4 linked regions of the Homo sapiens genome follow. The protein of the gene in region 3 purifies or fractionates together with the protein of the main gene of each other region. This does not show direct contact. Each region holds a gene or a part of one and is shown on either strand. Other genes may lie near its edges.

The links. The genes of interacting proteins can lie anywhere in the genome.
Region 1: the proteins of PRP4K (region 3) and PRPF8 purify together in Homo sapiens (affinity purification with mass spectrometry; 4 studies listed by BioGRID and IntAct, with this or other methods). This does not show direct contact.
Region 2: the proteins of PRP4K (region 3) and CDC5L purify together in Homo sapiens (affinity purification with mass spectrometry; 2 studies listed by BioGRID and IntAct, with this or other methods). This does not show direct contact.
Region 4: the proteins of PRP4K (region 3) and RAB3GAP2 fractionate together in Homo sapiens (co-fractionation; one large-scale study listed by BioGRID). This does not show direct contact.

The regions. Positions count from the first base shown.
Region 1 is NC_000017.11:1,656,346-1,661,510, reverse strand, and holds part of PRPF8 (pre-mRNA-processing-splicing factor 8), read left to right. Parts: intron 1-104; coding exon 105-240; intron 241-348; coding exon 349-518; intron 519-683; coding exon 684-813; intron 814-932; coding exon 933-1,079; intron 1,080-1,509; coding exon 1,510-1,670; intron 1,671-1,962; coding exon 1,963-2,154; intron 2,155-2,747; coding exon 2,748-2,985; intron 2,986-3,129; coding exon 3,130-3,258; intron 3,259-4,749; coding exon 4,750-4,863; intron 4,864-4,945; coding exon 4,946-5,119; intron 5,120-5,165. UniProt on the Homo sapiens protein: Plays a role in pre-mRNA splicing as core component of precatalytic, catalytic and postcatalytic spliceosomal complexes, both of the predominant U2-type spliceosome and the minor U12-type spliceosome.
Region 2 is NC_000006.12:44,421,563-44,426,727, forward strand, and holds part of CDC5L (cell division cycle 5-like protein), read left to right. Parts: intron 1-1,084; coding exon 1,085-1,247; intron 1,248-2,856; coding exon 2,857-3,021; intron 3,022-4,540; coding exon 4,541-4,621; intron 4,622-4,919; coding exon 4,920-5,162; intron 5,163-5,165.
Region 3 is NC_000006.12:4,030,162-4,035,652, forward strand, and holds part of PRP4K (serine/threonine-protein kinase PRP4 homolog), read left to right. Parts: intron 1-1,397; coding exon 1,398-2,594; intron 2,595-5,491. UniProt on the Homo sapiens protein: Serine/threonine kinase involved in spliceosomal assembly as well as mitosis and signaling regulation. Connects chromatin mediated regulation of transcription and pre-mRNA splicing.
Region 4 is NC_000001.11:220,268,632-220,274,549, reverse strand, and holds the start of RAB3GAP2 (rab3 GTPase-activating protein non-catalytic subunit), read left to right. Parts: upstream 1-2,096; 5' UTR 2,097-2,212; coding exon 2,213-2,327; intron 2,328-5,918. UniProt on the Homo sapiens protein: Regulatory subunit of the Rab3 GTPase-activating (Rab3GAP) complex composed of RAB3GAP1 and RAB3GAP2, which has GTPase-activating protein (GAP) activity towards various Rab3 subfamily members (RAB3A, RAB3B, RAB3C and RAB3D), RAB5A and RAB43, and guanine nucleotide exchange factor (GEF) activity towards RAB18.

The DNA of each region.
Region 1 (5,165 bases), on a different chromosome or scaffold from region 3:
TGAGAAGGCTGGTTCTACTGACCCTAATTATTTTTGGCCAGGAAGGAGTGCTGAGCTCCTCATATGAGATCACGTTTTGACTTGAATCTTTCTTTTTTTGGAAGACGCCTGACTTTAGAAGACCTAGAAGATTCATGGGATCGTGGCATTCCTCGAATCAATACCCTCTTCCAGAAGGACCGGCACACACTGGCTTATGATAAGGGCTGGCGTGTCAGAACTGACTTTAAGCAGTATCAGGTATGTAGAGGGAGCAGATTTTCCCTGAGTCAGGAAAATCCATGGCTATCCCCGAAACTTGGGGCAATAGGCACCCAGAAGCTTGACCGTGCCTGCCTTGCCATCTAGGTTTTGAAGCAGAATCCGTTCTGGTGGACACACCAGCGGCATGATGGGAAGCTCTGGAACCTGAACAACTACCGTACAGACATGATCCAGGCCCTGGGCGGTGTGGAAGGCATTCTGGAACACACACTCTTTAAGGGCACTTACTTCCCTACCTGGGAGGGGCTTTTCTGGTGAGGATTCTCCTCTCTTAGAGGGACCTGTCACAACCCTTTGAGCTCATCTCTTGTATGCCTCTGTGATTTCCTGTGGTGTTTCCCAGACAGCCACCTCCAGGAGGTTAGCAGTGTGCTGGGAAATGGCAGGATATCACCTCACCTGCTTCTCTTGCTCCCCAGGGAGAAGGCCAGTGGCTTTGAGGAATCTATGAAGTGGAAGAAGCTAACTAATGCTCAGCGATCAGGACTGAACCAGATTCCCAATCGTAGATTCACCCTCTGGTGGTCCCCGACCATTAATCGAGCCAATGTGAGTGTGATTGACACTGGAGAGGGGAAGCTAAAGACAGTTGCTGCTTCTTGCCTTGGTTATGTCGTGAGCGCCCGAGTCTCTTGATCTCTAATGTCACATTGTCGTTTTCCTGGCAGGTATATGTAGGCTTTCAGGTGCAGCTAGACCTGACGGGTATCTTCATGCACGGCAAGATCCCCACGCTGAAGATCTCTCTCATCCAGATCTTCCGAGCTCACTTGTGGCAGAAGATCCATGAGAGCATTGTTATGGACTTATGTCAGGTGGGCTGGAATCGAGGGGAGAGGGTACTGTAGAGAGTCAGCTCAGGTGGAATTGAGGGGAGAGGGTACTGTACAGAGTCAGCTCAGGTGGAATCGAGGGGAGAGGGTACTGTACAGAGTCAGCTCAGGTGGAATCGTGGGGAGAGGGTACTGTAGAGAGTCAGCTCAGGTGGAATCGCAGGGAGAGGGTGCTGTACAGAGTCAGCTTAGGTGGAATCGCGGGGAGAGGGTGCTGTACAGAGTCAGCTCAGGTGGAATCGCGGGGAGAGCGTGCTGTACAGAGTCAGCTCAGCTTGCTCTTTTGCATATGGGAAATCCACCCTGGAAGCTCTGAGGATGAGACTCCTATTGCCTCATTATCTTATTGTACAAACTCTGATTTTAATTGGGCTTCCTTAACAAGTCTTAATCTCTCCATGTTTTCCTTCAGGTGTTTGACCAGGAACTTGATGCACTGGAAATTGAGACAGTACAAAAGGAGACAATCCATCCCCGAAAGTCATATAAGATGAACTCTTCCTGTGCAGATATCCTGCTCTTTGCCTCCTATAAGTGGAATGTCTCCCGGCCCTCATTGCTGGCTGACTCCAAGTAAGTGCCTCAGGACCCAGCCCTAGGCAGCCAGGACACTTTCGTTTTCCTGTTCTTCTAGCCCTGCAACTTTAGGAATTGTCCTGTCTGCCTTTGTTTCAAACTTGGAGCCAGTGCTACGCTTGGAGCCTGTCAACACCCTTAGTCAGATCTGCTGATTCTCTGGGGTCCTGCTGACCTGGAACAAGTTGGTGGAGTGGGTGGGATGGTTTTGGGATTTAAGTGGTTCTGGTTCTGGGGACATTGGTTATGCCCATGGTTTCTTAGAAGCTTGAACCCTCTTCATCCTCAGGGATGTGATGGACAGCACCACCACCCAGAAATACTGGATTGACATCCAGTTGCGCTGGGGGGACTATGATTCCCACGACATTGAGCGCTACGCCCGGGCCAAGTTCCTGGACTACACCACCGACAACATGAGTATCTACCCTTCGCCCACAGGTGTACTCATCGCCATTGACCTGGCCTATAACTTGCACAGGTGAGTTGAGGCTCAGGACCATGTATTTTCAGGCCAGGCGCAGTGGCTCACACCTGTAATCCCAGCACTTTGGGAGGCCGCGGTGGGCAGATTGTCTGAGCTCAGGAGTTTGAGACCAGTCTGGGCAACATGGTGAAACCCTGTCTCTACCAAAATACAAAAAATTAGCTGGGCGTGGTGGTCCACGCCTGTAGTCCCAGCTACTCAGAAGGTTGAGGTGGGAGAATTACTTGAACCCGGGAGGCGGAGCTTGCAGTGAACCGAGATTGCGCCACTGCACTCCAGCCTGGGCGACAGAGTGAGACTCCATCTCAAAGAAAAATAATAATAATAATAAATAAATAAATAATCCGTGTATTTTCCATTAGCTCCATACTTTAACGTAGTCATACTTTTTTACTTTACCTAAGTGAGAGGAAGTGGCCCATTCCTCCTATGGGTCACTGATTCTCTTCTCCAGCCTGTATGTACACATGAGCAGAGTGTTGTCAGCCTGGCGAACAGTCTTTCTTCCTCTGTAGAGTTGGCAGCTTGTCTTGTTTCTGGGGCTGTCATTCTCGTCTTAACTTTTCTTGACCCTTTTATCCTCACAGTGCCTATGGAAACTGGTTCCCAGGCAGCAAGCCTCTCATACAACAGGCCATGGCCAAGATCATGAAGGCAAACCCTGCCCTGTATGTGTTACGTGAACGGATCCGCAAGGGGCTACAGCTCTATTCATCTGAACCCACTGAGCCTTATTTGTCTTCTCAGAACTATGGTGAGCTCTTCTCCAACCAGATTATCTGGTTTGTGGATGACACCAACGTCTACAGAGTGACTATTCACAAGGTGAGTGTTAGCAGCAGTGTATAGGTGCGGGACTCTGTACATGGCTGTGGGAGAGTAATGGGCTAAGTGTGTACACATGCTGGGAAGAAGGCAGGATGGGGATGTGTTGTGTAGGCCATGCTAACGAATGCCGTCCTCCTCTAGACCTTTGAAGGGAACTTGACAACCAAGCCCATCAACGGAGCCATCTTCATCTTCAACCCACGCACAGGGCAGCTGTTCCTCAAGATAATCCACACGTCCGTGTGGGCGGGACAGAAGCGTTTGGGGCAGGTGAGCAGGTTTAAAGATGAAGAGGCTGTAGAACCATGTTGCCTCTTATTCTTGGGGTGGACTTGGTAATATTTACTGGTTTATTAGATGAAAGGCTGAGAACATCTCATTTGAACTTATCCCCAAAATACCTTGGGAAGTATTCTGTGGGAGGTCCAAGAGTGTATGAGGTGCTTCGTTCCCTTCCAGCTGGTCTGTTTCCTGAATTTCTAACCTTGAACAGGGCTATCAAAAATCATTTTTCCAAAGGCAACGCATACTCTTTTTTTTTTTTTTTTTTTTTAGCCGGAGTCTCGCTGTGTGGCCCAGGCTGGAGCACAGTGGCTCAATCTCGGTTCACTGCAAGCTCCGCCTCCCGGGTTCACGCCATTCTCCTGCCTTAGCCTCCCGAGTAGCTGGGACTACAGGCGCCCGCCACCACGCCTGGCTAATTTTTTTTGTATTTTTTAGTAGAGACAGGGTTTCAACGTGTTAGCCAGGATGGTCTCGATCTCCTGACTTTGTGATCTGCCTGCCTCTGCCTCTGCCTCCCAAAGTGCTCGGATTACAGGTGTGAGCCACTGCTCCTGGCCAGCAATGCATATTCTCTTTTTTTTTTTTTTTTTTTGAGACGGAGTCTTGCTCTGTTGCCCAGGCTGGAATGCAGTGGCCTGATTTCAGCTCACTGCAAGCTCCGCCTCCCAGGTTCACGCCATTCTCCTGCCTCAGCCTCCCGAGTAGCTGGGACTACAGGTGCCCGCCACCACGCCCGGCTAAATTTTTTGTATTTTTAGTAGAGACGGGGTTTCACCATGTTGGCCAGGATGGTCTCAATCTCCTGACCTCGTGATCCGCCCGCCTTGGCCTCTCAAAGTGCTGGGATTACAGGCTTGAGCCACCGTGCCCGGCCCAGCAACGCATATTCTTGAAACATCCACTTTGACCAAATCTCTTCTCTACCTCACAACTCTTGCTGAATTAACTCTTCTTTAGCTTCCTAGACGTTCAACATCTGGCTGGGCTGTATCTGTCCAGCCAGTTTCTCTTCCTTTACATTTATAGCATGTTTCATCTTACATTCAGTCCAGGATCTTAGTAGCCCAAACCCCTGATGCTCATCTCCAAATCTGTGTTTTGCTTGTATTTTTCTTTCTAGAATGAACTCCCCTCTTTGCTCTGTTAATCACAGTCCCTCCTTAAGACACGTTTTTTTGTGCAGCTTTTTTCTGATCCTAGTAGCCTTAATTTCTTTTGTTCCTGAACTCTGTAAAACAGTGTATAGTTTAGCACATACTCATGTGTCAGCTTGTGGTATTGTCTTGTTGAAAGGGGCTGTCAGCCTGGTCATTGGACACGGCCATTTGATACTCTTTGTACCTTCTAAGTGCCTAACATTTAACATCAGTGTTCAATAGAAACGTAGTTGGATTATTTCAAAACTAGGATATTCTGTTCTAGTTGATCTGGGAGGGTAGAGACTAAATTTCCATTTTCTTCTCTCTTGCTTTTAAGTTGGCTAAGTGGAAGACAGCTGAGGAGGTGGCCGCCCTGATCCGATCTCTGCCTGTGGAGGAGCAGCCCAAGCAGATCATTGTCACCAGGAAGGGCATGCTGGACCCACTGGAGGTAAGAGGGTGGGGTGGGGTAGGAGAAAAGAGACCTTGAGACCTTCAGGCTGTTTCTCATCTTGGACTTGATCTTGTCTTAGGTGCACTTACTGGACTTCCCCAATATTGTCATCAAAGGATCGGAGCTCCAACTCCCTTTCCAGGCGTGTCTCAAGGTGGAAAAATTCGGGGATCTCATCCTTAAAGCCACTGAGCCCCAGATGGTTCTCTTCAACCTCTATGACGACTGGCTCAAGACTATTTCATCTTACACGGTATGAACCTCGGGAAGAGAAGATCGCTGGAGGAGGAGCGGGTTTA
Region 2 (5,165 bases), about 40 Mb from region 3:
ATTTCCTATGTTTAGTCGGCTCTCTGTATCTGAGGATTCCACATCTGTGAATTCAACCAACTGTGGATAAAAAATATTCCAAAAAACTCAAACAGTACAACAATAACAAATAACACAAATAAAAATACAATGTACCAACTATTTATATAGCATTTACATTGTATTAGGTATTATAAGTAACCTAGAGATGATTTAAAGTACATGGGAGGATGTGCATACGTTATATGCAAATACGATGCCGTTTTATATCAGGGAGTTGAGTATCTGCAGGGAGTTGAGTATTGGTCCTGGAACCAATCCCCGGTGGATACTTAGGGACAACTGTATGTCTTGTCTCTCACCTAGATTGTAAAATCCTTGGGGGTGGGAACCATGTCTTATGTGATAACACCTTACCTATCAGGAATAGCTGTCTGGCAGCATCACCGTTCTGCAACACACCAATATACAGGAAATAGGCAACCAGGAAAAAAAAAGACTTTGAATAATTAAAATATAGGTTGCTGCAAAATCTGTGGATCTTATTCCTAGGAGAATCTCTTAGGCCTCACTCAGGAACTTACTCATGTTTAGATGTGATTTCAAAAGTGTGGTGTTTGGTTTCCAAACAAAATGTAAAAGGAGGAACTATTTAATAAAGTGTGTACATTTGTAATAATGACAGTGATAGTGATGTGAGAACCAACAGCTTGATAGGGAGGGAGGAGACAAATATACACAAAACTCAAAGAGTCATCTGGGGTCATTGAGTGTGGTGGCCCACCTCCCTGCCCACTGCATGTTCTTAGTCGCCCTAATGTGCCAAGAAAAGGTTGAAATAATGTTTAGTGGACGTAGTTTAGGAAGGCAAGAAAATATCAAATGTAGTGATTATTGTAAGTCAGTAAAATAAAAATACCATGCTAGCTAGACCAAACATTGATTTTAACCTAGAGATCCTAACAAAACCAGCTGGACAGAATTTTGAAATCTTTATTCTTTTTTTTTTCTATATTTCCTGTGAAATAATTTATGTGAAAAACATTTGAAAGCACAATCCAAATGTAAGTGGCACTTCTGTTAATTGGGATTCCTGTCTTTCTAGGACTCCTTCTAATGGAGCTGAAGGGCTGACTCCCCGGAGTGGAACAACTCCCAAACCAGTTATTAACTCTACTCCGGGTAGAACTCCTCTTCGAGACAAGTTAAACATTAATCCCGAGGATGGAATGGCAGACTATAGTGATCCCTCTTACGTGAAGCAGATGGTAAATGTCAATTCCCTTTTAATACTCTTAAATTTTTTTTTAATATCTCATGGATGCCAAATTAAAATTTCTCCTGTTAGTGCATATCACATATACCTTAAGAATCTATACACCTGTGGATGCCAGAAAAAGAATTATTTGTAAGACTTGATGAAAGGGAATATTTTGGGCTCAAAACCCACCTTTCTTTATGCTTACTAGGTTTGTGAATATTGATGTTCGTTGTTGATTTCACTGAAGTTTTCTTTAGCAAGCTGAGGTAGAAAGCTAACTGTAAAAAGTTAAGTTTTGCTTCTGCCCGTGTTACTGCGTTTATTACTTTGCTATTGGGCCTTATTATCTAATGCCACAGAAATCATTGTGAAATTAAAAAAAAAACTTCTAATGATACTGGCTTGTCTTCAGTTTAAAATTAATTCTAACCTCATGTATATATTTGGTTGATTTATATATGTTTTTTAAAGTTCAAATTGATATCAACTAAAGCCAACTCTGAATGGATACATAAGAATTAAATAGATTAAGAACCTCATGCATGCAGAGCATGCATTTGGACATTTGAGGGGATCTAAAGTTGAATAAAGATGTCCTTTGTCCTAAGGAAATTTATATTCTGGGGAGATTGACAGTACTAAACTAAGTCCAAAAATAATTGCAATATCAGAACAGAATAAGCCCTTTGAGTAAAACCAGTGTGCTTAGGGTAGTTAAAGAAGGGAATAGTCACATTTGTTGGGTAACAGGAAAGCCTTATTAGAGGAGCTATGTTCTGAAGGAGGGTGGGGGCTGTCTCAGATGGAGACTACAATATGAGTAAGCATGGAGGATGTTTTAGATATAGCAACTCATCTGTTCCTCACACCTGGTACATGTAAGCACTGAGGATGGATGGGAAAACTCTGGGTACCAGGAGGCTTTTTTGGGAACCAGGACTCTACTTTCTTTCTTCTGCATGGGATTTAGTATTTCCATTAAAAATAAACACATACATACAAATTCAAGTATCTTTTAGAGTGGATTTTATTAGTCCAAGGACAAACTAACTTTTGAACCTGTTCTTTTCATTTGCTGTTAACTTTCGGTGTCAGAAATGTGTTCCCTCAAAGTGGTCTTTTTTTCTGCCCTGGCCTCAGACCTCCTGTTGGAATATCCCAGAGTATCTTCAGTGATCACAAGTGAAAGTTTTTGGTTGGTCTTAATGTTGGGAAGAAGGGGGGATAGAAAATAAACATAAGACTTGTCTTAGCTCTGAAGTCAGGATTATTTTTCTAGAATTAATATTAGGCTGATTTTTTTTGAGACTTTTTTTCTCTTTCTGTAATTTTTAATTTTTGTGGATACATAGTAGGTGTGTATATTTATGGGGTACATGAGATATCTTGATACAGGCATGCATGTGTAATAATCATATCGTGGAAAATGGGGTATTCATCCCCTCAAGCATTTAACCTTTGTGTTTGAAACCATCCAATTATTCTTAGTTATTTTAAAATGTACAGTTATTTTGACTAGAGTCACCCTGTTGTGCTATCAATTTTTAAGAGACTCATAAAATACTGGTGGAATGTTTAATATGCATGAATTGAGAAGGACCACTTCTTTTCTACAGGAAAGAGAATCCCGAGAACATCTCCGTTTAGGGTTGTTGGGCCTTCCTGCCCCTAAGAATGATTTTGAAATTGTTCTACCAGAAAATGCCGAGAAGGAGCTGGAAGAACGTGAAATAGATGATACTTACATTGAAGATGCTGCTGATGTGGATGCTCGAAAGCAGGTGGGTAACTGTACTGAAAGAAGCGTGAGTTTGGCTGAATGTGTCAGTAGGCTGGAAGAATGAAGAATAGCCATTAAATGTCCCAAGATCTCTACCTAGTCCTTTTTAATATTGAAAAAACTTCTAAAGTAAATAACTTATGTCATTAATAATGTATCCTCACATAATTAACATACTCACAATATTTTGATGAGCATTCTTAAAAATATATATATGGAAATTTAAATACATTCTGTCAAATTCATTATGCTTCTCTAAAATACACATAGGTAGTCTTTTAGACATTGCTTCAATCTAGCAAAGAAAAGATGTTATTGGTTAGTCTTAAAAACAAATACATCTTGGTTCCTGGGTGGTGCGATGTACGAGCCTGTAGTCTCAGCTGCTCGAGAGGCTGAGGTGGGAGGATTCTTTGGGCCCAGGAGTTTGAATCCAGTCCGGGGAACATAGTAAGACCTCTATCTAAACTGGAGTTGGAAATTTAGATAGAGTGTGTCAAAATAATATTAGTAACACTTTGTACTAATATATCTTATACGTAATTACTTTCTCATTTGCACGTAACAGCACAGTGATATAAATAGGATCGGTATTACAGGTTGAACATTGCTAATCCAAAAATCCAACACCTGAAATGCTCCAAAATTCAAAACTTTTTGAGTGCCGACATGAAGCTCAAAAGAAATGCTCATTGAAGCTTTTTGGATTAGAGTTAGTATAATGCAGATGTTCCAGAATCTGAAAAAATCAGAAATCCAAGATACTCTGGGCCCAGATATTTCTAGTAAGGAATACTCAACAAGCTCAGATGAATTGAGGTCTCATGGTCTCAACTTTCTCAGGTCTCATGGTGGGTAAGTGGTGAATCCTAAACTAGAACTGATATTTTATGACCCCTTTCAGTAGCTGCAGTCCATTGCTGGATGATTTTAGGGACCTTGAATCTCAGGGGATTGGAGTGAGAATGACATCAGTGGAAACAATATTTTAGAGGGGACCCATGTAAATGTGCTTTTCAGTGGGGAACAGAGGATGATACTTTTTGTGTTTAGTTCTCAGCTACTTTGAGTTACATTTACTCCTTCAGAAATGGCATGAAATTTTAATGTGTTATCCCACATTATTCATAAGAATCAGGAAACAATACATTTTTTGGCTGGCTTTTTGAGTTAAAAGTCAGTAATTTTGGAGTGAAAGGGAAGAAAGAGTTTTGTCGTGGGAGTCTCTTTGGAGTTTAGGTTTTCCATTTAGATGAGAAAAGTTTGTTACGTGATATGGATCCATGCAAGTTTGGAGAATGCTCTAGTAGACATTGGAAGCTCTTAGTTTCTATTATAATGAGAGTGAATAGACTGATTCATTTCTGTTGCCTTAGCATTGCCTTTCTACAAACTTAAACCGATTTCTAAACTTTAGCTATTGAACACACATGATCTTACATACCAAAGTGTTTTTAGCTTTACTGAGAGATATCAAATACGCTATAGCTGCAATAAAGGATATAAAAATCATTTTTTAGGCCATACGAGATGCAGAGCGTGTAAAGGAAATGAAACGAATGCATAAAGCTGTCCAGAAAGATCTGCCAAGACCATCAGAAGTAAGTGTTAGAATTTCTGGTTTAGGAAGTTTTAAGTTTCTTTTTATATGATTGCTGCGTTTTACATCATTCATAAAGACTATAAAACAAAATTTCATCTACTTTCTGGAATATAGCAAAGTAGTTCTCAAATCCAATCTTTAAAATGTTTCAGTAGTACCAGAAAGAATTTAGAAGGAAAAAAATGGAAATTGCTTTTGAAAATGTAAAACCGCTGTTTAATTCATGCTGTAACAGGTAATAACATTAATATATTATAGTGATATGTTTGGTAATTGTATTTGTTTTAAAATTTTAGGTAAATGAAACTATTCTAAGACCCTTAAATGTAGAACCGCCTTTAACAGATTTACAGAAAAGTGAAGAACTAATCAAAAAAGAAATGATCACAATGCTTCATTATGACCTTCTACATCACCCTTATGAACCATCTGGAAATAAAAAAGGCAAAACTGTAGGGTTTGGTACCAATAATTCAGAGCACATTACCTATCTGGAACATAATCCTTATGAAAAGTTCTCCAAAGAAGAGCTGAAAAAGGTA
Region 3 (5,491 bases):
TGAACTCCTGACCTCAGGTGATCTGCCCACCTTGGCCTCCCAAAGTGCTGGGATTACAGACGTGAGCCACCATGCCTGGCTTGTACATCTGTTTTCCTGCCGCGTGGCTTAATGCTTACCCATGGTTGGTGAGTTTTTTTTAAATGTTAAAGAGATTGTGAGTAGACAGATGAATTCTTAGGTTGCAAGGATAAACTTACTAAAAGTATAGGAGTATATAATATGAAGACCTGACAAAATAATCCATAGCTTCCTCCAAAAATAGTATGATGGCCTGAATCTAGATAATTTAAGGCCACTTTTGGTCTGATATTCTAGGATGATGGTTTATTATGGAGTAACTTTTAAAGAGAAAGTTAAATAGTGCTTTTGAACCAGTATTTAACTTGGGATTCTTAAACACCAAGGGCTCGACAACGTAATTTAGAATCATAAACTTTTTAACTCAGCATAAGCCAAACATTTAAGCACAGAATCCCCCACTTTATTTATTTATTTCCATAGCATCTGTTAATGTAAATGTATTTTGGGAAACTGAGTTCTCATTTGAAATTCAGAGAGATTAAATCACTTGCTGAATGAATATTGGGCTGTACTGTATTAAATTACTGATATTAGACTTGTTGACTTACAAAAGGCCCTTCCATGTGGTTCAGCCTAATGTCGTATGATTGCTTACTACAAGCCTAGAGTCCTAACTTCCGGTTTAGTTCACTTTGAAGATTCAACTTGTGAGGATGTGTTTATACTATCACCATCATCAGTATCAGCTACCAATGCACATTGATTGAGTGCTTATTTTGGGTATAGCTCAGTATTGGCTCTAGAGTTTTGTTTTGTTTTGCTTTGTTTTTAAGGTATAAGATGAAATCTGCTCAAAACAAGTGACCTGCTGGGTTTACTGTAGAGACACCAAGTTTCATGAATTTCAAGTGGAGAAGGAGATTAGTCTTCCAGTGTATGTTAATAGTTAGTAGGTCTTATTAAAAAAGAAAACGGGCCCTTTGGTTGTTAATGTGTGAGAAATGTTGGTTTAAAAATTAAGTTACTGAGTGGCTTCTTGTACTAAATCAATGTTAATGAGGTTTTGCTGTGCCTGGTTTGCTTTTCCCTTTTTCTCTAACCTGTACTTTTTAAGCTCACTCCATTAGGGATTTCCTCTAATACTTTTGGTGAGTTCAACCATTAGAAACACAATAAAGTTGTATCACTATCCAACTCAGTTCTTGCCGTAGACCTTCTTTGAAATAAAATGTCTGAAGCTGTTCTGAAAAAATTTTAGTGACTGACTTCATGTATTACATTGAGATGTATTTTCTCATTACTGTTATTTTCTTATGGCTCTTTGAATACTTGATAAATGATATGATTTTAAAATGTGTTTGATATATTTATAGGATGGAAGATGCTAATTCTGAAAAGAGTATAAATGAAGAAAATGGAGAAGTATCAGAAGACCAGTCTCAAAATAAGCACAGTCGTCACAAAAAAAAGAAGCATAAACACAGAAGTAAACATAAGAAACATAAACATTCCTCAGAAGAAGACAAGGATAAAAAACATAAACATAAGCATAAACATAAGAAACACAAAAGAAAAGAGATTATTGATGCTTCTGATAAAGAGGGTATGTCTCCAGCAAAAAGAACTAAACTTGATGATTTAGCTTTGCTAGAAGACTTGGAAAAACAGAGAGCCTTGATTAAGGCCGAACTTGATAATGAGTTAATGGAAGGAAAGGTCCAGTCTGGTATGGGGCTCATTTTGCAAGGTTATGAGTCTGGCTCTGAAGAAGAGGGGGAAATTCATGAAAAGGCAAGAAATGGAAATAGGTCTAGTACTAGATCTTCAAGTACAAAGGGGAAACTTGAACTTGTGGACAATAAAATTACTACAAAGAAACGAAGTAAAAGCAGATCCAAAGAACGGACTAGACATAGGTCTGATAAAAAGAAAAGTAAGGGGGGTATTGAAATCGTTAAAGAGAAAACAACTAGGAGCAAGTCAAAGGAGAGGAAAAAATCTAAAAGCCCATCCAAAAGAAGTAAGTCTCAAGATCAAGCAAGGAAATCAAAATCCCCTACCCTTAGAAGGCGATCTCAAGAGAAAATTGGTAAGGCCAGATCTCCTACTGATGATAAGGTTAAAATTGAAGATAAAAGTAAATCAAAAGATAGGAAAAAATCCCCAATTATAAATGAAAGTAGAAGTCGCGATCGAGGTAAAAAATCCAGATCCCCAGTTGATTTAAGAGGTAAATCCAAAGACAGAAGGTCACGGTCCAAAGAGAGAAAATCAAAACGGTCTGAAACTGATAAAGAAAAGAAGCCAATTAAATCTCCCTCTAAAGATGCTTCATCTGGGAAAGAAAATAGGTCACCCAGCAGAAGACCTGGTCGTAGTCCTAAAAGAAGAAGTTTGTCTCCAAAACCACGTGATAAATCAAGAAGAAGCAGGTCTCCACTTTTGAATGATAGAAGATCTAAGCAGAGCAAATCCCCCTCGCGGACACTGTCTCCTGGGAGAAGAGCCAAGAGCCGATCCTTAGAAAGAAAACGACGAGAACCAGAGAGGAGACGACTTTCTTCTCCAAGGTAACTTGTGTACAAAATGTTAAAGCTTTTTACCAGTGCATGAGATTTTAAACGGAAAACTAGAACTTGTGGACCATTAAAAATGAAGTAGTAAGTAAAAATAAAAATAAATGAAGTAGTAATGAGTTTCATAATTTTAAGTAACCCAATCCATTAACCATGTTAATATTTGCACTTTTTTCGATGAGTATTTTAAGTATAGGTGTTTAACAAATACTGAGCTTGATGATAGAATTGGGTTTTTTCACATTCTTGATTTAATACCTAGTTTGCTAAGGCACTCCTTTCAATCCATGTAATTTGGCTGATAAATCTTCATTGGGGGCGTTTAGAGAGAGGATTATTACTTCATGAACAGTGTAGGCTGAAACTCTTAACTTTGAAAAGGGGGAAAGGTAATCAGTTTAACAATTGTGTTCTGTTCATTCTCTTGTATTTGCATGAGTTTTAAATTTTAACAGTATAAATAGAAACCAATACCAATATTTTTTGGTCCCCAAAGTATAATTAAAATGGAAAATTTTGTATTAATACATATAATCTCATTGTTGAAAAGTAGTATCTCTTAAGCTTAAGAAGAATAGTATATGAAATTATTTTGTACTATTTGAATAATATATTGTCTTAGTTCTTATAAATCCTCATGTGATTATCTTAACTCATGAGGTGAAGGGGCTCTCATACCTAATTTATAAATGAAATAGAATCAGAGAATGTATATAATTTACGTAGGATCATAGAACGGAAGTATTTGCGGGGAGGAGTGTTTATACCACTTAAACTACTTTAGAAACAGATTTCTTAATGTCTTTTTTGTATTTAGTATTTAAGTATTATGAAATTGCCAGCTAGGTTTTGCTTATTAAAAGAGTATTGGCTTATACTATATAAGGATGTTATTAATTCCTAGCCGTTTACTGTGTTCATAATAATATTTTCTGTGAATGGGTATAAATATAAACTCACCCTGAAAGTGAAGTCATCATATTTTCAGAGAAATTTCAAATTTTATTTCCAAGTGCTGTGTCTTAAGAGCGTCTTGATTCTTTACTTCTGAGTGGCACTGTAATGAAATAGCCCCTTTTTCCTTTGGCTTCCTGGATTGAGGCAGTGATTAGTTTTACTGATTCTGTTATCTCAAGTGCTTCTTAATTATCTTGGTGGTCTTTCAGTTTGCTTTGTTTGAAGAGCAAATTCTGAGGAGTTTATTAAGGACTAGAGCTGAGTATTTGAAACAAAAATATTTTTTTAAATTACAGAAGTGATGCATACTTACTTATTAAAGAGAAATCCAAATAAGCCTGTAAATTGTCTCCCTTTTCATTTCTCCACTACCACTCCTTAGAAATTTACTTTATCTTAGGTCTTTCCTTGTACAGACAATAACATGAATATAAGGGAATTTTTTTTTTTAACAAAACTGGAGTCATATTATTCATATTCACATGTGGCTTGCTTTTTTCAGGAAACATTTCTGCGACAAAACATATAGATTGTTTTTCATTCTGCCTGACAGCAACTGGTATTTCAGTGTAGATGTATTATAGTATCATTCTCCTATTGAAACTGATGAAAAATTTAGGTTGGTTCCAGTTTTTCACTATTATATGCGAAGATGTGCCTTGGTTATATGTGAGGTTTCTTTATAGAATAGACTCATAGAAGTGGACTTGCAAAGTCTCAGAGTATGTACATTTACATTGTAGAAAGTTATTGCTAAATTTCCATCCAGGAAAGTTAGGTCAATTTCTACTTCTACTTCTATGACTATGTGAACTGCCCCTTTTCCTGAAACTGTATTAGGAAAGTTTAGGAAAACCTTTATTACCAGGATACCATATAGTATTTTGTCACTCTTAAAAACAGAACAAAAAACCCAAAAATTGTTTTAATCGAAATTTCTTAGGTGACTAGTGAGGGTGAACATTTTTATTTTCTTTATTTTTATTTATTTATTTTATTTTATTTTATTTTTTGAGATGGGGTCTTGCTCTGTTGCCAGGCTGGAGTGCAGTGGCGTGGTCTCGGCTCACTGCAACCTCTGCCTCCTGGGTTCAAGCGATTCTCCTGCCTCAGCCTCCCAAGTAGCTGGGATTACAGACACGCACCACCATGCCCAGCTAATTTTTGTATTTTTAGTAGAGACAGGGTTTCACCATGTTGGCCAGGCTGGTCTTGAACTTCTGACCTCGTGATCCGCCCACCTCGGCCTCCCAAAGTGTTGGGATTACAGGCCTGAGCCACTGTTTATTTTCATTGCATTTTAGCAGACAACACTCTGTTCTTTTTATACTAGTTTACTTTATCCCATCCATTTATATATACATATATATACACATATATGTGTGTTGTTTTTGTTTTGTTTTGTTTTGTTTTTTTGAGATGGAGTCTCGCTCTGTCGCCCAGGCTGGAGTGCAGTGGTGTGATCTTGGCTCACTGCAACCTCTGCCTCCTGGGTTCAAGCAATTCTCCTGCCTCAGCTTCCCCGAGTAGCTGGGACTACAGGTGTGCGCCACCACGCCCGGCTAATTTTTTTTTTTTTTTTTTTTTTTTTTTTTTTTTGATATTTTTAGCAGAGATGAGGTTTCCCCACGTTGGCCAGGCTGGTCTCGAACTCTTGACCTCAGGTTATCTGCCTGCCTTGGCCTCCCAAAGTGTTGGGATTACAGGCGTGAGCCACCGCACCCAGCCCATTTATATTTTTTAACTGGTCTTTTGAGGCTGTGCGTGTATGTGAGCAGATTAAATAAAAGAGTTTCCTCAGATGGCCCTATCAAGAAGTAAGCACTACCAAGAAGTAAGCACTACAGATCTGAATCAAAGTCTACCTTGCTCATTTTGGCTGGATCAGAGAAGGATTCTTGGGTTCTGTATACCGTGCTGAAACATGCAAGGCA
Region 4 (5,918 bases), on a different chromosome or scaffold from region 3:
AACCATGGTAGCAGAACTCCAGAGGCATCCCCCCCTGTTGCATTACAACTTCCTGGGGGAAGAGTTCAGTTCATGAATGTGTTGTAATTTCTGTGAAGGGTATCTAAAGTCCTTAAAAACATCCATGAATGATCCTTTTCAACAGTACTTGGAAGGAAGTCAGGGACTTCACCATTAAAACTGAGCCAACACAGTAATGAAATTCAATGACCACCACAGGAGACATATGAATGCCTCAGGGAAGAACAAAGGCCAGCAAAATCAGCCAACAGCAGTTACTTCCACAAAATGCATTTACCTGAATAGGAACTTGAATGGTTTTCAAGGAATGACAGTCTCCTTCCAGAAAGTGTCATGTGTTTGTTATTCGTCCAGTAACACTAAGAATCTAAATTTAAATTTTGGTTTAGTTTGGGATTGGTGCTGGATTTTAGGGAATAATCTTATCAGGGCTGGATTATTCTAGTTAGTGATGATCTGAGGAAACACTGCATTTCTTCAGATGGAAGAAGGGAGCACTGGCAGCTTGCTTTTTCTGAAAGCTTTGATTACAGAAGTATAGGTCCCTGATGCTTAAAGGGACCTTACAGCACATCTGATTCAACTGCCTTTTATAGGTGAAGAACTGATTCCTGTTAACCTGATAACATAGAAATTGCCTATCCTATTTTGTGAAAATCATCCTACTCTAGAAGTAGGAAATAATGGAGTAGGAACCTGGGCACTAAATTATAGTTGTTATATTATTAGGACTAAGTGTGTATGTCCACGGGCCTGACAGAAATGAATGCTCTGGACCCCATCCACTTGCCTTTCATTTGTTCCTGTGCCCTTTTTTCATACAAAGTGGATGGCCTCTTTAGGTTTCCTTTAGGAAATGTGTAAGTGCCTACAGGCCTTTGTGCTCACATTAAAATAATTTTTTTTGTTTTTATTTTTTGGAAAAATAACTTAAAGTCTGCTCAGAGACAGCTCAATTTCTTTATTTTAAAAATGGGATAAGACACACTATTTTTAGATGGCATTTGTGACTATCCAAATGAACAATGTAAAGTACTTTCAAAAATAGTGCTTTGTCAAAGAAACAAGTTATTCTATTTACTTTATGTATGCATTCCATTTATTTCTTCAGCAAATATTTATGAAGCACTTACTAGCATGATCACAATTTCAGTTAAATAGTTAAGTACAGTAGTCCCCCCTTTATCCATGGGTTCATTTTCCACATAATTATTCAATTTAATTATTAGTTATTGTTAATCTTTCACTGTGCCTAATTTATAAATTTAACTTTATCATATATATGTATAGGTAAAAACATAATACACATACATAGGTTTCAGTACTATCCATGGTTTGAGTCATCCACTGGGGATCTTAAAACATATCCCCTTGGATTAAAGGGAAATACTGTAATTAATTGCTTACTGCCTGTATCAGTCACTAGAATTCCAGCTTTCTGGGAAAAGGTACTTCTTCTCTTTTGTTCTCTAATGCTCAGCACCCTGCGTGGCTGGCATTTAAAAGACTAACAAATATTTGTTGAATGGATGGATGAATGCATGAATGAAAAACCAAATGAATAATGAAAACAAAAGTGTATAATACACTATAACACGTACTATATTGGGCTTGCGTAGTACTATGGGAATCTATAGTAGGAGCATTTAAAGCCAGCCTTGACGGGGCTAATCTCCGGAAGAGCAATTAATCTTTTCAAAATCCGACTCTTGCAGGATACGGTCCCCCACTGGCCTGCCACTAGTTTAAAACGAATTAGTTTCTGTGAAACATCAGGATCGTGCCAATAGTAGGGGACCAATAAGACTGAATAAGTCAAAGGGCTGCGCGGACAAGTCCAATTAGAACACCTCTGGCTAAAAGCCAGAATGAATGAAAGGGTTCATGCCTCGGCGTAGACACACAACTGGGACTGAAAAATCTGCCCCAAGCCTCCACGTCGACTTTGGCTCCACCTGCAGCGGCGGCGCCGTAGTCACGTGACCCGGGCCCCCGCGCCCTAGGCGCCTGGGCCAGCCTGCGCCTGCGCAGTACTCGGAGACAGCGGACCCGTGTCAGTGACAGCTTCCGGTTTGGTTTCTCCGCCTTCTGCTTGGCTAGAGCTATTGGGGCTCGGTGGCGGCCGCAGTGGGGTGGAGGGGGCAGGGCGTGGTGAGGTAAGGTGAGTGCCGTAGTGGGGTTCCCTGGAGCCATGGCCTGCTCCATTGTCCAGTTCTGCTACTTCCAGGACCTCCAGGCCGCCCGGGACTTCCTCTTTCCTCACCTGCGGGAGGAGATCCTCAGCGGCGCCTTGCGGAGGGACCCCAGTAAGTGCCTCTCTGGCCTCGCCCTTCCTTCCCTCGTCACCCGCGGCCTCTGCTCACGGGTTCGAGTCTCCTACTCGCTCTGCGCCTCCTGCCTCTGCCCTCTGGACCCCCAGTTCTCCCCGTGCCTCCCCTCCGCTCCGGGATGACACCCTGCCCACCTCGTCCTGAAGCCCCATTTGTGTTGTCTTCCTCTCGACCCAGCTTTTCTCCTTAGGCCCTCTGACCCCTGGCTAAAAACTGCGTCTTGTTTCCTCTCGCCTCTGCCTATCACCGCTTTCTCCCTCCCTCCCCCCACCCCCACACATTCCTAGCTTTCTCTCTGAGTATCTTCTCCGTCTCCCATCTTCAGCCTGGGGTCGTTCCCTGTTTCATGTTGCCTGCTCCGTGATCGCATCCTCCCCGTTCCTTGCCACATGTCAGCGCTCCACTCTGGTATTGCCCCAGCTCCCACTCTCTTCCATCCCGGAGACTGTGGCCTTCTGCTACCTCCCATTCCGAAAGTGTTGATCATCCCCCCACACTCTCCCTTCTTTCATCTGCATTTCCCCCATTCAGATTTTGAGAACAAATGGCTGACAAATGAGTGACTCTTGAGGTAAGACTCTCTCAAAGAAGGAAAATAACCTGTCAGGAAGTGAACGAGAATCTACATTAGGAACTAAAATTACAGTGACATAGCCAAGAAAGGTTAATTTGCTTTATTGAAGCCTTCCACCTATTTTTATCATCAAAGTGTTTAATAAGCCTTTCCCCAAGTAGTATAAAGTTCCAAGGCTGGTTTATTAGATACTATATAGGCTTTCAGAATTTCGTACATTTCATTTTGAAAGGGTGTGCCTTGTGTTTTATTTTATTTTATTTTATTTTATTTTATTTTTGCATTTCCAACCTGAAGCACATTTGGCTTTGTAGTACAGCGCTCTCACTTTGTGCTATACCGGAATGGTGATATAAAGCCCACTAAGCTCCTCTCCCTTTTTTAGAAAATTTAGAAGATATCAAATCGAACCCATCTGTGAATGATTGCATACTTTGTGCCAGTCATTGGTGCTACAAACCAAATAAGGTTGGTGGACCCTGCTGTAGGAACTTCTGGTTTACAGACAAATCATTAACTTCCATTCAGTGTGACTGAGATATACATGAGGCATTTTCTTGAAGTGGTGATACTTAAGCCTACCTTTGAAGTACTAGTTAGAGGAGTAAAGGAGCAGTAATAGCATGTGCAGAGGAAGGGAGGCCTGAAATGGCATGGTATTTAGAGAACTAAGAAAAGCTGAATGGCTGGAGAGGAGGATGGGAGAGGAAGAGTTGGGGCAATGAGGCAGTAGTAGTAATAAGGAGCTAGACCATGAGAGGCCTTGTGAAAATTGTGGCGTTTCTCTGAAAGTTTAAGTAGAGAAATGACATTGTCAGATTTGTACTTAATGTAATCAACAACATTTGTTGAAGACCTGTAATGTGCTCTGGTAGCAAAGTGGAGGAGAGATTGGAAGAAGGGAAATGGATTGGGAAGCTCTTCCAGTAATCCAAGCAAGAAATTATGTGAGCTTGAATTAAGAACCTTAGTAGGATGAAGATGAAGGACTAGATTAGAAAGACGTTAAGGAGTTAGAATCTGCAGGACCTTGTGAAGGTCTGGTGATGGGCATTGTAACTAGTAAGTGAGGGGGAGTTTAGGAAGTCTTTGGCTTGTGGTTTGGGCAACTATATGTAATAAGAGAATGAAGGATACAGATTTTCAACCTTTTGCATTTTAAATGTTTATGGTATGTCCAAGTAAGGACATCTGGTTGAACACCAGATATAGATAGTCTAAACAGTAGGGAGTACTGGGCCAGAGATGTTAATTGGGGAGCTAACAGCAAAAAGTGTCAGTTCAGTCTCAAGGATTATGTATGTTGTGAAATGCACTGAGTACTAAAGCTGTAAGCTTAGAGGAGCACTGGTGTTTAAAAGTCAAGTAGAGGTTACTGGGAAGAAGACTGAGAAGGAGTAAAAGAAAGAGGAAAATCATGTGAGAGTAAGGCCCTCGGAGCTGAGGAAGGCGAGAACTTGATGAGGGTGAGGAATGGTCAGCAGTTTTGCAAATGCAGCAGGGGTCAGGTAAGAAAAGGATAGAAAAATGCTTATTGGTTTTGAGAAGGTGGAGGTAACTTGGACCTTAGGACAGTTTCAGTAGGATAGTGGAGGCAGAAAGCATAGTTATAGGATAAGGGGTTAAAAAGTGAAATATACTATTTCAAGGAGCTTGGCTGTGAAGGATAGCAGATGCAGGATTGTAGATAGGGAATGTAGAAAAAAGGAACAGATTTTCTTTATCCTTCTACCACTCTCCTGGTCCAGGCCACCATCTTTTCTCAACCTGGGCTATGATATGATATGTGTCTTCTTCTAGCAATTCTTCCTGCTTTTGCTCTTGGTTTCCTGTAATAATTCTCAACAGTAGTTACAGTGAGCTTTTAAGGCATAATTTAGATCACAACATTGCCTTTTTTTTTGAGATGAAGTCTCACTCTGTTGCCCAAGCTGGAGTGCAGTGGCATGATCTCAGCTTACTACAACCTCCACCTCCTGGGTTCAAGTAATTCTTCTGCCTCAGCCTCCTGAGTAGCTGGGACTACAGGCATGCGCCACCATGCCCGGCTAATGTTTGTATTTTTAGTAGAGATGGGGTTTCACTATGTTGGCCAGGCTGGTCTTGAACTCCTGACCTTGCGATCCACCTGCCTTGGCCTCCCAAAGTGCTGGGATTACAGTCATGAGCCACCACACCCAGCCTAACATTGCCCTTTTAATAACACTCAATGGTTTTTGATTGCACTTAACGTAAAATCCAAAGTTCTTAAATGGTGTATAAGGCCCTTGAGACTCTGCTTCCTGCCATTTCTTGGACCTTATACACCTCTCCCCTTATTTCTTATGCTTCAGACGCTCTTTTTTGTTGTTAAACCAGCCAACCACATTTGTGGCTAAGGTTTTTGCCCTCACTGTTGTCTATGCCTTGGATGCTTTTTGCAGATCTTTGCATGCTAGTTGCATCTTGTCATTCAAGTCTCAGCTCAAATGTCAACTCAGGGCAGCCTTTTCTGACCACCTGATCTAGATCTAAAGTAGTCAATACAACCCCCTTGTTCCTACTTGTTGTTCTCAATCATATCATCCTGTTTATTTTCATCATTATATTTCTACTGTCCAGTATGGTAACCTCTAGGCACATGTGGTTATTGAGCCTGTGAAATGTGGCCAGTGCAACTGAGGAACTGAATTTTTAAAATTCAAGTTAATTTTAATTAATTTAAATTTAAGTAGCCAAAGTGGCTAATGCCTATAATATAGTATGGCACAGTTATAGGTGCTAAAACTCAGGTACATACAGATTGAATACTTGTCCAAGTTACATAGGCAGTTGGGGATATAAATACACCCCAAACATCTAGATTAATTTGCACTATACCTATAGATTTATAAATATGGTTTAATGTATTTCTCTTCTAAATCAAATTCTTGAGTTTATGTATGTTGATATTATTGTGGCTATGATCAGTTCATGTAGAAAATGAACAGAATGGACCTCTTCACCAGTGAGCC